Regions from separate parts of the Homo sapiens genome. Here region 2 is linked to region 1. The links come from fine-mapping of genetic effects on gene expression. A gene starts in region 1. The other region holds a variant in brackets. All regions are shown on one strand. Distances are between the middles of the regions.

What was found. PIP is the estimated chance that this variant, and not a neighbour inherited with it, causes the effect.
Region 2: its variant is fine-mapped to the expression of DCAF10 in whole blood (TOPMed, PIP above 0.99).

The regions. Positions count from the first base shown.
Region 1 is chr9:37,795,686-37,804,025 of GRCh38, forward strand. DCAF10 (DDB1 and CUL4 associated factor 10) reads left to right here and starts at 5,112. Exons shown (of 7, transcript NM_024345.5): 1 at 5,112-5,720. The coding sequence starts at 5,182. LOC105376037 (a long non-coding RNA gene) reads right to left here and starts at 5,206. Exons shown (of 3, transcript XR_929599.3): 1 at 4,982-5,206; 2 at 2,946-3,043. RefSeq lists enhancers at 4,641-5,242, 6,194-6,243 and silencers at 5,084-5,603, 5,824-5,883.
Region 2 is chr9:37,846,273-37,854,612 of GRCh38, forward strand. All of the region lies in intron 3 of DCAF10 (DDB1 and CUL4 associated factor 10), which reads left to right. Among named protein-coding and RNA genes, the nearest start is that of DCAF10, 50 kb to the left of the region's middle. The variant C/T (reference allele first, on the strand shown) is at 5,149.

The DNA.
Region 1 (8,340 bases):
TTGCTAGGTATTTCTCCAGCTTTATGAACATTTAATGTCAGATATCCCTGCAGAGACCACTTAAAAGTTTACTTTTGCTCTAGGCTGAAAACAGTATACCTGAGGAAAAACAGTAACATGACTTACACCTTAGAAAATATCCACTTTTAGTTTTCGCCTAAATAGTGCAGGTAATTTTGAGTCTACAAGGCTTCTGAAAAAGAGCAGGGGATGCCAGGTGCTTGGGAGTGGGGGTTGAAGGGTGGAAATGGGACTTCATGCCTAAGTATACGAATTTCAGTTTGAGAAGATGAAAAAATTCCTACCCATTGCACCCTCCAGTTCCCATCCGAAAAGACAACCACCTTCATCTACAGCTCTTTTCTCTGCTATTTTACCTCAATGTTTAAATATAATACACTGATATTGCTTGATTTCTTAATTTTAAGAGAATGTGTTGACTTCCTGACAAGGTAGATGTGGTTTTGGCTCTTCCTATTTCCACACTCTTCATCCCTCCCTCTCCACGCTTTGCTAACACACGGCATAGTTACAGCACAATTTCTGGTTAAATCAGAAGCCATTTTTTACAATATTACCAGTGCAAATATTGTTATCTGCCTTGACAGATTGTACATTTTATGCAATCCTTTATTTTTCATGGAGTTGGTGATTGCCTCGTTTCAGTCCATTGTTTGTTATTCTATATACTTTGTTAATTTCTTCCACTATTCTGGCATTGGAGTCTTTTGCCTCGCCTTAATAGATTGCAACATTCCATTTCCATTTTTCCTCTGGAGACTTCCCACTCTGTGCTCCTCCCACTTTGGGGGGGCTGCTCTTCAGGCCTGCTGCACAGCTGTCTTTTCTTTAATTGTGGTAAAATATGCATAACAAAATTTATCATCTTAACAATTTTTACATGTACATTCAGTACATACACAGTGTTAAGTGTATTCATACTGTTGTGCAGCCATCACCACCATCCATCTCCAGAACTCTTCTCATCTTGCAAAACTGAAATTCTGTACCCATGAAACAATACCTCCCCATCCCCACCTCACCCTAGTGCCTGGCATCCACCATTCTTCTTTCTGTCTCTGTGAATTTGACGACTCTAGGTACTGCATAGAAGTGGAAACATACAGTATATATATCCTTTCGTGACTGGCTGATTTCACTTGGCATAATATTCTCAAGGTTCATACACGTTGTAGCATGTGTCATATTTCCCTCCCTTTTTGTACACCTGTCTTTTATACCTTCCTGCACTGCTCTCCTTCTTAGATCCACTTAGATCACTTTTATTCCACTTTCTTGCTTTACCTGTCCATTTTGCTAGAGGTCCATAACCTCCGGTATCTTCTTAAATAAAGAGAATATGAGGCTGGGCACAGTGGCTCACGCCTGTAAAACAGAGTGACTCTGTCTTTTCTCAAAGATCTACTGATGGCCACACAAGGCATCTCCTTGCTGTGTTAGGTATATCATCCTATGTCCTATTTCTTGTGGCATCATTGAGCCCACAGCAGGCCTCATTTTGAACTTCCACATGTGGCATTTTTTGAAAAATCTGTAGCTGTGGCAATACTGAGCTTGCATTTCCTCGTAGTTGCCAAGTTATGGCTGCCCCCAGTAAAGGGAAATTTAGAGACAATGCTTGCAAAGCTCCTACCAATAAGCCTGGTGAAGCACTTACTCAACAAATGGAAGTTGTTCTTTTTCATGGGATTACAGTTATTCAAAGGTTCAGAATTTAAAAGTGTTCAGAAGAAAAGGGGAGCCAGACCTGATATTTGTAGATTGGCTTAGATTTGGAGGTTTTTAAAAAATACTATTGAGTTGCCATCCTTGGCAAGGAGCTTGTATGTACAGCGATAGCTATAGATCCAAGCCAATCTACAAATGTGTGTGTAGCACCTGGTTACGAGCATGGAACCTGGAGCTAGATTGCCTGGATTTGAATCCTGGCTTTACCACTCTCAGGCTGACTTTTCTTTTTTGTGTCTGTGTTTTCTCATCTCTAAAATGGGGATAATAATCGTACCAACATACCTTGAGTTTTGAGTTAATATATATGAACCAGCTTAGCATAATATTAGGCACATACTAAACATTATATGAATGTTTGCTTATTATTTTTCAATAAGCTTATATGATAGGATCACTTAACTCAGCATAATATTAGGCATATACTAAACATTATATGAACATTTGCTTTTTATTTTTCAATAAGCTTATATGATAGGATCACTTTACTCAGCATAATATTAGGCATACACTAAACATTATATGAATGTTTGCTTTTTATTTTTCAATAAGCTTATATGATAGGATCACTTTACTCCTTGAGTACATTGTTTTCTTTGGGCTACAGAAGGCTCCCTGGTTGAAAGGACACATTTGTTTTCTTGGTTGTCATTCCAATTCTTTTTTTTTTTTTTTTTTTTTTTTTTTTTTTTTGAGACGGAGTCTCGCTCTGTCGCCCAGGCCGGACTGCGGACTGCAGTGGCGCAATCTCGGCTCACTGCAAGCTCCGCTTCCCGGGTTCACGCCATTCTCCTGCCTCAGCCTCCAGAGTAGCTGGGACTACAGGCGCCCGCCACCGCGCCCGGCTAATTTTTTGTATTTTTAGTAGAGACGGGGTTTCACCTTGTTAGCCAGGATGGTCTCGATCTCCTGACCTCATGATCCACCCGCCTCGGCCTCCCAAAGTGCCAATTCTTTTTTTTAATTTTTGAGATGGGGTCTCACTCTGTTGCTCAGGCTGAAGTGCAACAGGCTGAAGTGCAGGGTGATCACAGCTCACTGTAACCTTGAACTCCTGGGCTCAAGGGATCCTCCTGGCTCAGCCTTCCGAGCAGCTAGGACTACAAGCATGCATCACCACACCGGAATGATTTTGTTATTTTTCATAGAGAGACAGAGTTTCATGATGTTGCCCAGGCTGGTCTCAAACTCCTTACCCTCAAAAGATCTTCCTGCTGCTTGAGCTTGGGAGGTTGAGGCTGCAGTGAGCCATGACTGTATTACTGTACTCCATCCTGGTCAACAGAGTGAGACCCTGAAAAAAAAAAAAAAGATCCTCCTACCTTGGCCTCCCAAAGCACTGAGATTACAGGTGTGAGCCACTGTGTCTGGCCCTTGATTCTTTTTGTCAGTGCATAAGTCCTGGTTCAGGTATTGTGAAATCAAGTGATCATCCCACAGGAAACTGAAACTGAAATTGAGCAGCCATCATTCTGGTACCTCAAGGGACTCTGCAGGAAGACCCTAGGGGGACTCTGCCAAGAACAAGTCTAACCTGTTCTGAGTCTGTCTCTTTTTATGTATCTGTATCTCCTCCTACCATCAACTTTCTTTCTCACCGTCTATCCCAAGTCTGTTCTCTCATGGCTGCTGCTTTCTCATGATTTCTCTTACTCCTTTGGTTTGCTCAGGACTCCAGCGGCCTCACTCTGCCTTATGACTTTTCAATCCCAACCATCATGGCCAACTGCCTCACTTCTGATTTCCCAATTCAAATTCCCAAGAGCATGAGTCTGTATGGGCAAAGACTTTTGGTCTGGCAGCCTCATGGACCAGTGGCTAATCTATAGCCTGGTTACTCAAATAGTTGTCCTACCCCGGCTAGTAGGCAAGGAAAGCTAAGTAACAGCTACAAAATTCGACAGCCTAGGACTTCTAGGATGGGTTCAGTAGAATATACGTGCTGGCATACACATGAAGAGTGTGAATGCCAGGCAAGTAGGCTGCTACAGTAGATTGGACCCATCCAGGGGGTCTCCAGAGAAGTAGAACCAATAGGAGATATAGATATAAGAGAACATTTAATATGGGAATTGGTTCATATCATTGTAGAGGAGTCCCATGATCTGCAGTCTGCAAGCTGGAGAACCAGGAAATCTGGTGGTGTAATTCAGTCTGAGTCTGAAGGTGTGAGAATCAGAGGAGCTAATGGTATAACTCCCGGTCCAAGACTGAAGGCCTGAAAACTGACGATGAGTCCCCAAGTCCAAAGCCCGCAGAACCGAGTTTTGATGTCTAAGGGCAGGAGATGGATGTACCAACTTAAGAGAAAGTTAAATCACCCTTCTGCCTTTTTGTTCCTTTTCAGTCTTTAATGAATAGGATGATGCCTGTCCACAATGGTGAGGGCAGATCTTCTATTGATTCAAATGCTAATCTGTCCTGGAAACACCCTCACAGGCACACACAGAAATAATGGTTTTCCAGGCTATCTGGGCATCTGTTAGCCCAGTCAAGTTGACCCAGAAAAGTAACTATCACCTATTTGCCATCTTTCATTTAAGCCCAGATACACAGACTGGCTATCTCAGCCATTCCTTGGGTAGCACATCCAAACCTGTTTCCTCTCAGTCTCTCCTTTGCCTTGTGACAAATAGGTTTTGGAAGAAGCTGCCTGTGGTCACCCTGAACTTGTTGTGCCTTTAAGAGTTGGGCATGCTGGCCAGGCGCGGTGGCTCATGCCTGTAATCCCAGCACTTCGGGAGGCCGAGGCGGGTGGATCACGAGGTTCAAGACCAGCCAGGCCAAGATGGTGAAACCCTATCTCTACTAAAAAATACAAAAAATTAGCCGGGCGTGGTGGTGGGCGCCTGTAATCCCAGCTGCTCGGGAGGCTGGGGCAGAGAATTGCTTGAACCCGGGAGACGGAGGTTGCAGTGAGCCGAGATCGCGCCACTGCACTCCAGCCTGGGCGACAGCGCGAGACTCCATCTCGGAAAAAAAAAAAAAAAAAAAGAGTGGCATGTCACCTATTGTGTGTGGCCTGCACGTAATGCACTAATTCTTAATCCCTCGCTGATCCCAGTGTAAAGTGGAGACACCAGTACATACTCAGCCTCACAGGACTGACTGGTCAGGCCACTCATCCCCAGGCACGCGGCCACCGGTCACTGACAACTACAGACCGACTCTGCCACCCAGATCAGGTGCCCAGATGCTCAGTCGCTCACACAGGTAACTACTCGCTCCCTACCTCCGTTCCCGGGACTGCGGCGCCCCAAACCCGGCGGTGTCTCAGCTTTCCCGGTCCCCGGCGGACGGTGGCCGAGGGGCGGCGCGGGTTTCCAGCCGGTGGGGTTAGGCCGCTGCACGCCGGAAGTGGCAGCTGAACAGGGGCACTGAGGTGTCGGCCGGCGGGGCAGTGGCCCGGAGCGGGGGGCGGGGGCGTTGATCATGTTTCCCTTTGGGCCCCATAGCCCTGGAGGGGACGGATCGGCCGGAGCCGGGGCTGAGGAGCCGACGCCCCACGAGGGGCAGGCAGCAGCCACCGGGCCGCCCTCGCCACTACATCCCGGGGCTGATGCGACCCATCCCCCTCCACCCGCCCGAAGCCCTCGCCGCCCCGGCGCCCCATCGCTGTCCCCGGCCCCGCGCTCCGGAGAGCTAGGGCTGCCTGGAGCTCCGGAGTCCTCAACTGCCTCCGCCCCGGGAGAGCCGTCACCTCCCTCCCCTCCGTGCCGGCGGCCCGGGCCAGACTGCAGGGCCAAGAGCCGGGGCCGACACGGCCTCGGCGCGGGCCTGGGCGGCCCTGGCGCTAGGCTGTTCGGGTGGCTGAAAGAGCGCAGCCTGGGCCGCGGGCTGTTCGTGGACCCGGCGCGGGACAATTTTCGCACCATGACTAGCCTCTACGGTTCCATCCACCCCGCGGACTCGGTGTACCTCAGCACCCGCACCCACGGCGCCGTCTTCAACCTCGAGTACTCGCCCGACGGGTAAGCGCGGCCCCTCGGAGGGCGGGCGCCCGCCTCCGCCCGGCTCTGCTGCCAGCGGACGGCCGTCCTGGGCTCGCTCCCCGCGCCCGGGCCGAGGTTAGCGAGGCCGTTTGGGGCCGCTGGCCTTCGTGCCTCCTGGCACTTTCTGAAGCGCATTCTCGCCCTTGGAATCCCCAGCCCAGCTTTTTGAGGCAGGCAGGCGGGGCCCCACTTGCTCGCCTTCAGGACTTGGGCTCTGTGAAGGAGAAATGCCCGAAGCTACACAGCGGACCTGTCAGAGCCAGCCCACAACTAGGGCTTTCTGGTACACAGTAGGTGCTCAGTAAATACATTTTGAATAAATGCCCGCTTTCTCCCCATCATCCTAGGCTCGCGTTTTCCTACCTAAACCTGTGTCGGGGTAGGAAAGCTGTAGATTCCTTGCACTCTGTACCTGAACTTGCCATGATGGGGCAAGTGCGTTCCTTTGCTCAAGGAAGATACAGTACTAAGACACTGTAGAGACGTGGCTCTCATGATTTGGGTCATTTGTGAAGTCCCCAGGCTAGACTACAGCCTTTTTCTTGGCTGATTAAATATTTATTGTATGGCTTTGCTTTAAAGGGAACTTTCCAAAATCGTATCTATTTAAAACTTTGTCTTGTCAGTACACAAGTCCGCCATCAAAAGAAAAAATGTGCACAGTTCCACCATGAGGTGACATAGTTAATGTAATTCTTACCCCACCAAGCCTCTCGGTTGCTAGTTGTTTACTCAGTTGTTCATTCATTCATTCTCTCATTCGGCGTATATTTGTTGAGCACTTGCTATGTTCCAAATGCAGGAGTAACCATGCTGAGCAAAACCAGCTAATGGCACTGTTTTCATTGAGCCTGGGACTTAATGGTTCAACTAGATAGTAGATAGCCTTACTAAATAATGCATAAAATATATTTGTTAATTGAGATAAAGTCTTGAAGGAATCTGTTATGGACACTGTGTTCACGGATTCCCTGAGGAAGTGGCACCTAAATGAAAATAAAAATGAGTACGAAATAAATTAGTCAAGATAGGGTTGGGAAAGGGATAGAAGTATTTCAGATGGAGATGATTGGTATGTCAAAGGTCGTAGAAGGGCAGCATATCATGTTACAGGAGGTGAAAAAAAATAGGTTTACAAAGCAAAAAATTTTACTGAAGAAAGACCTGAAGTTGCTAAGGAAGGAGCAAAGGAATAGAAACAGGAGTTACTGTGAGCAAGTAGACTCTATTCCATTTCAATGATGGAAGCGCTTCCTAATCACACGTGGTGCTGGGGTCTCTGGGGTCTCAACAGCAATTGGTTGGAGCATGTAGCAGTGGATGCACACCTGAATAAGGTGGAAAACTGGTGAGAGGAGAAACTATTTTGCTGAAACTTATTCATGGAACCTCGCAGCCTCCTTCCTTCAGCCAAGCCCTATTCCTAAAGTTTCCCTCAAAACACGAACAGTCTGTCCTCAAATATTCAGTTTCTCTCTTCATATCCCGGCCCCTCTCCTCCCAACCTCCTACCGATACTTTCAGGAATTCAGAAGCAGCTATTTCTACTTTTTGGATGTGGGATTTTAGGTGGGAGTATAATGAGAAGAACAGATTTTAGAGCTGTTAGAATAAGGGATATATTGCTTAGTTTTTGTTTGAATCTAGAATGTATTTTCTCATAACAGTTTTGTAAAAGGTGGTTAGGAACTCTTGCACTTAATTCCATAATTTTAAATTACACAATTAACATATATGCTCATTGTGTAAAACCTAGGCAATAAATGAGCAAAAAATACCTAAACATTGCTTATGATCCCAGAGATTAAATGGATATCTAAGGAAATTTTTAATTTGTGTATGTTTATTTTAATATAAACATGGAATCACTGTTTTGTAGCTTGCTTTTTTTCTTACAGTAAATTGTGAACTGCTTATGTTAATAAATATATTTCTACAACATTAACATTTTTCATTAGTTTAAATAAAACCTCTTTGAACAAATATTTTATATTTATATCTTTAGGATAAATCCCTAGAATGAGTTATTGTTATGAAGATTTTTATATCTATTGTTAAATTGCCCTCTGCAAAGATCATACTAATTCTCATTACTATATTCTGATTCCTACATTCTAGACACATGCCTGTCTCCTCATACCCTTGGCAACACTGCATACTGCCATTCTTTTTCATGTTTATCAGGGTGATGAGTGAAAATACTTCAGTGTTTTAATTTTTCAGTCTTCTTACTTCATCTAGTATGCCCTACATTTGTGTAGGACTTAAAGTAATTTTACAGATAGATGACATATCCGTGTTAAATGAGGTAATTTCTCATATCTTTCAGTTAAATATGAGTTAAATCAGCTTACCAGGTAGCATAACCACTGTCACCCTCAAGGACTTCTCAATACAGAGAAGGAGGGGGTGACACAGAATGTAAAAATTAAAATTATGAATTTAATAGAGACCACAATATAAGGAATTTGGCAATAAAAAAGATAAATGGGTTAGAAGGTATTTTCTAAAGAATTCAAAAAATGTTTTAAGTGATAGAAACATTGTCAAAATAAGTGTATCACCTTCTAAAATGACATTTTGAAAAAGTAAAATTGAT
Region 2 (8,340 bases), 51 kb after region 1:
ATAAGATTCAACATTTAGTCATAATTAAAAACAAAAGAGAGGAGATATCATAACCAACCTTACAGAAATTAAAAGGATTAATAAGGAGTACTATGAGCAACTTTATGGCAACAAATTAGGCAACACAGATGAACAGATAGACACCTAAGGAGTCACAAATTACTGAAATTGACTTAAGATAAATAGAAAATCTATTGACTTATAGACCTACAGCAAGTAAAGATATTGAATTGGTAATTTTTTTTTTAAGATGGAGTCATTGCAACCTCTGCTTCCCAGGTTCAAGTGATCCTCCTGCCTCAGCCTCCTAAGTAGCTGGGATTACAGGCATCCACCACCACCCCTGGCTAATTTTTGTATTCTTAGTAGAGACAGGGTTTCACCATGTTGGTCAGGCTGGTCTCAAACTCCTGACCTCAGTGATCTGCCCACCTCGGCCTCCCAAAGTGCTGGGATTACAGGTGTTAGCCACTGTGACTGGCCTGAATTGGTAATTTAAAAATACTCCCACAGTGAAAAGCCCAGAATCAAATGGCTTCACTGATTAATTCTACCAAATATTTACATAGTAAATAATAACAGTCCTTCACAAACTCTTCCAGAATATAGAGGAGACAGGATATTTTCCAACTCATGCTTTGAGTCTACTATTATCCTGATACCAAAACCAGACAGACACCATAAGAATAGAAACTACAGGGCTGGGTGTGGTGGCTCATGCCTGTAATCCTAGCATTTTGAGAGGCCAAGGCGGGTGGATCACTTGAGGTCAGGAGTTCAAGACCAGCCTGGCCAACATGGTGAAACCCCACCTCTACTAAAAATACAAAATTAGCTGGGTGTGGTGGTGCATGCCTGTAATCTCAGCTACTCAGGAGGCTGAGGCAGGAGAATCATGTGAACCCAGAAGGTGGAAGTTGCAGTGAGCCAAGATCACACCATTGCACCCCAGCCTGGGGCACAAGAGTGAAACTCCATCTCAAAAAAAAAAAAAAAAAAAAAAAAGAATAGAAACCACAAATATTCCTAAAAAAAAAAAGGATGGAAAAATCCTCAACAAAATATTAGCAAATCTAACAATATATATAAACATTTTTATGTCATCACCAAGTGGAATTTATCCCAGGAATACAGGGTTGGTTTAACTCCCAAAATCAGTTAATGTAATACATTATACTAATAAAGGTCAAAACCCATATGATAATCAAGACAGAAAAGCACTTGACAAAATCTCTTTGTGATAAAACTAGGCATAAAAGGGAATGTATTCAAAAGCTAAGAATCTTGCTTAACATTGAAAGACTGAATGCATTCCCCCTAAGATGGGAAGCAAGGCTCTCACCACTTTTTTTTGAAATTATACTGGAGGTGCAACATTGCACTGGAGGTGCAATCAGGTAAAAAAAAGAAAAGGCATTCAGAATAGAAAGGAAGACGTAAACTGTCTTCATATGCAGGAAATATGTTTCTGTATACAGAAAATAGTAAGGAACCTACCAAGAAATCCACTAGACCTAATAAACAAGTTTAGTAAATTCACAAGATATACAATCAATTGTATTTCTACTTATAAGCAATGAACAATCCAAAAATGAATGAAGAAAATAATTTAATTCACAATAGCATCAAAAAGGGTAAAATACATAGGAATAAAATTAACAAAAGAGGTATGAGATTTGTACACTGAAATCTATAAAACATTGCTAAAGGGAATATAAGAAGTTGTAAATAAATGGGGAGATAGTCCATGTTCATGGATTCGAAGACTCCATATTATTAATTAATAACAAGTATTGGCAAGAATATGGAGAAACTGGAACCCTGATTGCTGAAACCCACATTGCTGGTGGGAATGTAAAATGGAATAGCCACTTTAGAAAACAATTTGGCAGTTTCATAAAATGTTAAACATGGAGTTACCATATGATCCACCAATTCCACTCCTAGATATCTATTCAAGAGAAATGAACATATATGGCCACACAAAGACTTGTACATGAATATTTATAGTAGCACTCATAATAAGCAAAAATGGAACCAATCCAAATATCCAGCAAGTGGTAAATAGATAAACAAAATGTGGTGGATGTATGCAACAGAATTCTATTTAGCAATGAAAACGAACAAATAATTGATACATGCTATGACATGGATGAACCTCAAAAAATTATGCTGGGTGAAAAAAGCCAACTTGCAAAAGACTACTTACTGTACGATTCTATTTATATGAAATATCTAGAATAGGTAAATCTATAGAGACAGAAAGTTGATTAGTGGTTGCCTGGAGCTGAGAGTGGGAACAGAAAGTGATTGCTAATGGGCAGGAGGAATCTCTTAAGGTGATGAAAATGTTCTAAAACTGGATTGTGTTGATGATTGCACAGCTCTGTAAATTTACTAAAAAATTACTTAATTGCGGCCTGGCATGGTGGCTCACACCTGTAATCCCAGCACTTTGGGAGGCCGAGGGAGGGTGGATCACCTGAGGTCAGGAGTTTGAGACCAGCCTGGCCAACATGGTGAAATCCCGTCTCTACTAAAAATGCAAAAATTAGCAGGGCGTGGTGGTGGGCACCTGTAATCCCAGCTACTCAGGAGGCTGAGGCAGGAGAATTGCTTGAGTCCAGGAGGTGGAGGTTCCAGTGAGTCAAGATCACGCCACTGCTCTCCAGCCTGGGCGACACAGCGAGACTCTGTCTCAAAAAAAAAAAAAAAAAAACTTAATTTACACCTAAAATGAGTGAGTTTTATGGCATGTAAGTTATACCTCAATGAAACTCCTGAATCATTAATTAACTAGAGATAGAAGGAAATTTATCAAAAGTATATACTAAAAAATTATAGCACATTTTAAAATGGTGAACCTTAAGAAGATTTCTCCTTAAAATCTGGAAGGAGAGCTTGCTCACTGTTACCACTACTGTTCATCAGTGTCATGGGGTGGGTGAAGCGGGGGAGGGTACTAGTTGGTGCAATAAAAGAAGGAAGAAAACAATTATATATGGATTGGAAAGAAGAAAACACTATTATTCACAGATGATATATCAGGCGTTGGCAAACTATTTCTGTAAAGGACCAGGTAGTACATATTTTAGGCTTTGTGTACTACATGGTCTCTGAGCTGTCATAGATGATACATAAATGAATAGATGTGGCTGTGTTTATACAAACTTTCTTTATAGAACCAGGCAGTGGTCAGGCACCGTGGCTCATGCCTATAATCCCATCACTTTGGGAGGCCAAGGTGGGAGGACTGTGTGAGCCCAGGAGTTTGAGACAAACCTGGGCAACATAGTGAGACCTCATCTCTAAAAAAATTTTAAAACATGGCCAGGCACGGTGGCTCATACCTGTAATCCCAGCACTTTGGGAGGTTGAGGTGGGCAGATCATGAGGTCAGGAGTTCGAGACCAGCCTGACCAATATAGTGAAACCCCGTGTCTACTAAAAATACAAAAAAATTAGCCAGGTGTGGCAGGTGCCTGTAATCCCAGCTACTCAGGAGGCTGAGGAAGGAGAATCGCTTGAACCTGGGAGGCGGAGGTTGCAGTGAGCCGAGATCGCACCACTGCATTCCAGCCTGGGCAACAGTGCAAGACTCCATCTCAACAACAACAACAACAAAAAATTTAAAACATTAGCCAGGTGTGGCCGTGTGTGCCTGTAGTCCCAGGTACTCAAGAGGGCGAGACAGGAGGACCCCTTGAGCCCAGGAGTTCAAGGTTTCAGTGAGCCATGATTGCACCACTGCACTCTAGGCTGGGCAAGAGATTGACACCCTGTCTTTAAAACATAAAATAGATAAAAGTGGGCCAAATTTGGCCCATAGGCCAAAGTTTTCTACTCCCTGTTCTATATAGAAAATCTTACAAATTCCTCAGAGAAATTATCAGAATTAGTAAGATTTAACAAAGGTCATTAGATATAAATTATGGAAGACAGTAGGGAGGTTCCTCAAAAACTTAAAAATAGAACTACCATATAAATCCAACAATCCTTCTACTAGGTATATATCCAAAGGAAATTAAATCACTATGTCAAAAAGATATCTGCACTCTCATGTTCATTGCAGCACTATTCACAGTAGCCACGATATGGAGTTAACCTAAACGTCCATCAATGAATGAATGGATTAAAAATGTTGTAATATACACAGCAAAATACTATTCAGCCTTAAGAAAGAAGGAAATTTTGTCATTTGCGACAATACGAATGAGCCTGGAGGACATTATATTAAACAAAATAAGCCAGGCTCAGAAAGACAAATATCACTTACATGTAGAATCTAAAAAAGTCAAAAACTCATAGAAGCAGATAGTAGAATGGTGGTTACCAGGGACTGGGGACAGGTGGGTGGAGTACAGTTGGGGGAAACTTTGGTCAAAAAATACAACATTTCAGTTAGGAGGAATAAAAGTTCAAGAGATTTATAAGGTACAACATGATGACCACTGTTAATGACAATTTACTGTTGTTATTATATATAATTGAAATTTGTTAAAAGTAGATTTTAAGTTTTATCATCATAAATGCTAAGTATGTGAGGATATATTTTATATATATATATATATATATATATATATATATATATATATATATATATATATATAAATTAGCTTGATTTAGCCATTCCACAATATATACATATTTCAAATATCATGTACACCATTAAAAAAACTCATTTTTTTAGGCCTGGTGCGGTAGCTCATGCCTCTAATTCCAGCACTTTGGGAGGCCAAGGCGGGTGGATCATTTGAGATCAGGAGTTCGAGACCAGCCTGGCCAACATGGTGAAACCTTGTCTGTACTGAAAATACAAAGAGTAGCCGGGTGTGGTGCCACACACCTGTAATCCCAGCTACTTGGGAGGCTAAGGCAGGAGAATTGCTTGAACCTGGGAGGAGGAGGCTGCAGTGAACCGAGATTGTGCCACTGCACTCCAGCTTGAGCGACAGAGTGGAATATAGTGGCACAATCATAGTTTACTACCACCCTGTCCTCCTGGGCTCAAGCCATCCTCCTACCTCAGCCTCTCAAGTACCTGGGACCACAGGTGTGACACTCTGCCTGGCTACTTTTGCATTTTTTCATAGAGACAGTGTCTCATTATGTTGCCCGTGTTGGTCTCTAACTTCTGGCTCAAGTGAT[C/T]GTCCCACCTCGGCCTCCCAAAGTGCTGGGATTACAGGCATGAGCCACTGCACCTAGCCAATAAGCAAATTTTAAAATAAAGGGCATAAACTGCCTGGGCACAGTGGCTCACACCTGTAATCCCAGCACTTTGGGAGGCCGAGGCGGGTGGATCACTTGAGGTCAGGAGTTTGAGACCAGCCTGGTCAACATGGTAAAACCCCATCTTTACTAAAAATACAAAAATTAGCTGGGCGTGATGGCAGGCGCTTGTAATCCCGGTTACTCGGGAGGCTGAGGCAGGAGAATCGCTTGAACCTGGGAGGCAGAGGTTGCAGTGAGCCAAGATCATGCCACTGCATTGGGCGACAGAGTAAGACTCTGTCTCAAAATAAATAAATAAATAAATAAATATATATGAAAATAGATATTGAAAAGTTACCCAGAATATAATATGAAAAAGATACTGAAATGAAAAGATAGAAAATATAAAGAAGCAAGTTATAAGAAAAGGAGAGTCAAACATGAATGTTTCATACATATATTTGGAGCTCTAAAAGAATAGGGAAAATCAGTGAGAGGCAATATTGGAATAATGACTGAGAAACTTTCAGAATATATGAATAATACGAATCTTAAGACTTGGAAAGTCAAATGAATCCCAGTAAAGATAAATAAAAAGAGATCCAAATTTACATATACCAGTGAAATTGCAGTACTCTAAAGACAGAGAGAAGATTCACCAGAGGGGGGAAAAAAGATAAATTACGCAAAGTAATAGTCAGACTAATAGCAGACTCACAAATAGTAACAATGGAAAATAGAACTCTGTGGAAAATTATCCTAAATATTCAGAAGGAAACAACGACCTAAAATTATATGCTAAGCTAAACCTTTATTCAATAAGATGAGTTGAGCTGGGCATAGTGGCTCATACTTATAATCTCAGCACTTTGAGAGGCTGAAGTGGGAGGATCACTTGAGACCAGGAGTTCCAAGACTAGCCTGGGCAACACAGCAAGACCCCATCTCTACAGAAAATTTAAAAATTAGCCAGGAGTGGTGGTGCACACCTGTAGTTCCAGCTACTCGGAAGGCTGAAGTGGGAAGATTCCTTGAGCCTGGGAATTTGAGGTTATAGTGAGCTATGATTATGCCACTGCACCCCAGCCTGGGCAACAGAGGGAGACCCAGTCTCTTAAAAGAGTGAAATAAAGATTTTCAGAACAGGCTGGGCATGGTGGCTCACGCCTATAATCCCAGCACTTTTGTAGGCCAAGGCGGTGGATCACCAGAGGTCAGGATTTTGAGACCAGCCTGGCCAACATGGTGAAACCCCGTCTCTACTAAAAATGTGAAAAATTAGCTGGATGTGGTGGCAGGTGCCTGTAATCCCAGCTACTTGGGAGATGTATATTGTACAACATGATGACCACTGTTAATGACAATTTACTGTTGTTATTATATATAATTGAAATTTGTTAAAAGTAGATTTTAAGTGTTATCATCATAAATGTTAAGTATGTGAGGTTATATATATATATATATATATATATATATATATATAAATTAGCTTGATTTAGCTATTCCACAATATATACATATTTGAAACATCATGTACACCATTAAAAAATTTTATTTTTTTTAAAGGCTGAGGCAGGAGAATCGCTTAAACCCAGGAGGCGGAGTTCACAGTAAGCCAAGATCGCGCCATTGCACTCTAGCCTGGGCAACAAGAGTGAAACTCCGTCTCAAAAAAAAAAAAAAAAGATTTTCAGAACAATAAAAAGCGAGAGCATTTACCTCAACAAAGTCTAACTTTAAAAAATTCTGGCCGGGCATGGTGGTTCATGCCTGTAATCCCAGGCATGGGTGTGGTGGTGCGTGCCTGTAATCCCAGCTACTTGGGAGGCTGAGGCAGGAGAATCGCTTGAACCCGAGAGGCAGAGGTTGCAGCGAGCTGAGACAGTACCATTGCACTCCAGCCTGGGCGACAAGAGCAAAACTCCATCTCAAAAAAAAAAAAAAAAAAATTCTGAGGGATATACTTCAGAAAGAAAGGATCAAAAAAGGAATTTTGGAGATGAACGAAGGAATGATGAGCAAAAAGATTGTTAAGCATGTATGTAAATCTCAATATACATTGACTGTAAATTCTATTTTTTTTAACAGCTGGAAGTTTTACAACTTTTTCTTCTGGTACTCATTTTCATTATATTTTCTCATAGAATTATATCCTGTTATATGCTCAGGCTGGTGTGCAGTGGCGCAATCATGGCTCACTGCACCGTCCACATCCCAGGCTCAAACCATCCTCGCACCTCAGTCTCCAGCTAACTTTTTATTTTTTGTAGAGACAGGGTCTTGCTATGTTGCCCTGGTTGGTCTTGAAATCCTGGGCTCCATCTGTCCTCACGCCTCAGCCTCCCAAAGTGTTGGGATTACAGGTGTGAGCCACCACCCCTAGCCTACTGATCATTCTTATTGGCATCAAAAATATGCACGTAAACTGACATTAATTTTAAAAATTGTTTTCTGTGACCACAGGGCTATTAGTGTTACATTTCTTCTGGATTTAATGATCATTACAATATTATTAGTCCACAATTGATTAAAACAACATGTATTATTTTAAATAATAATTATTAACATAAAAAGTAAAATTTATTGGAAAGACATCTCATTTTTGAAGTTTCAATTTTTTTTTTTTTGAATAGAGACAGGGTCTGTCTGTCTGTCACCCAGGCTGGAGTGCAGTCGTGTGATCATAGCTCACTGCAGCCTCAAACTCCCAGGCTCGCGTGATCCTCCCACCTCAGCCTCCTGAGTAGTTGGAACTATGAGTGCACACCACCACACTCAGCTAATTTATTTTAATTTTTTAAATTTTTGTAGAGATGGGGTCACCATCTTGCCCAGGATGGTCTTGAACTCCTAGGCTCAAGCAATCCTCCTGCCTTGGTCTCTCAAAGTGCTGGGGTTACAGGCATGAGCCACCATGCCTGGCCTCAAATATTTTTTAATTGACACATTGTAACTGCACATATTTACAGGGTACAATTTGATGTCTTGACACATATATGTTGTATAATGAGCAAATCAGTATTAGCATGCACTTATCATTCCTTTGTGGTAAGGACATGTAACAGTCGCTCTTCTAGCTATTTTATAATATACTGTATCTTACTATTAACCGTCATCACCCTACTGTGC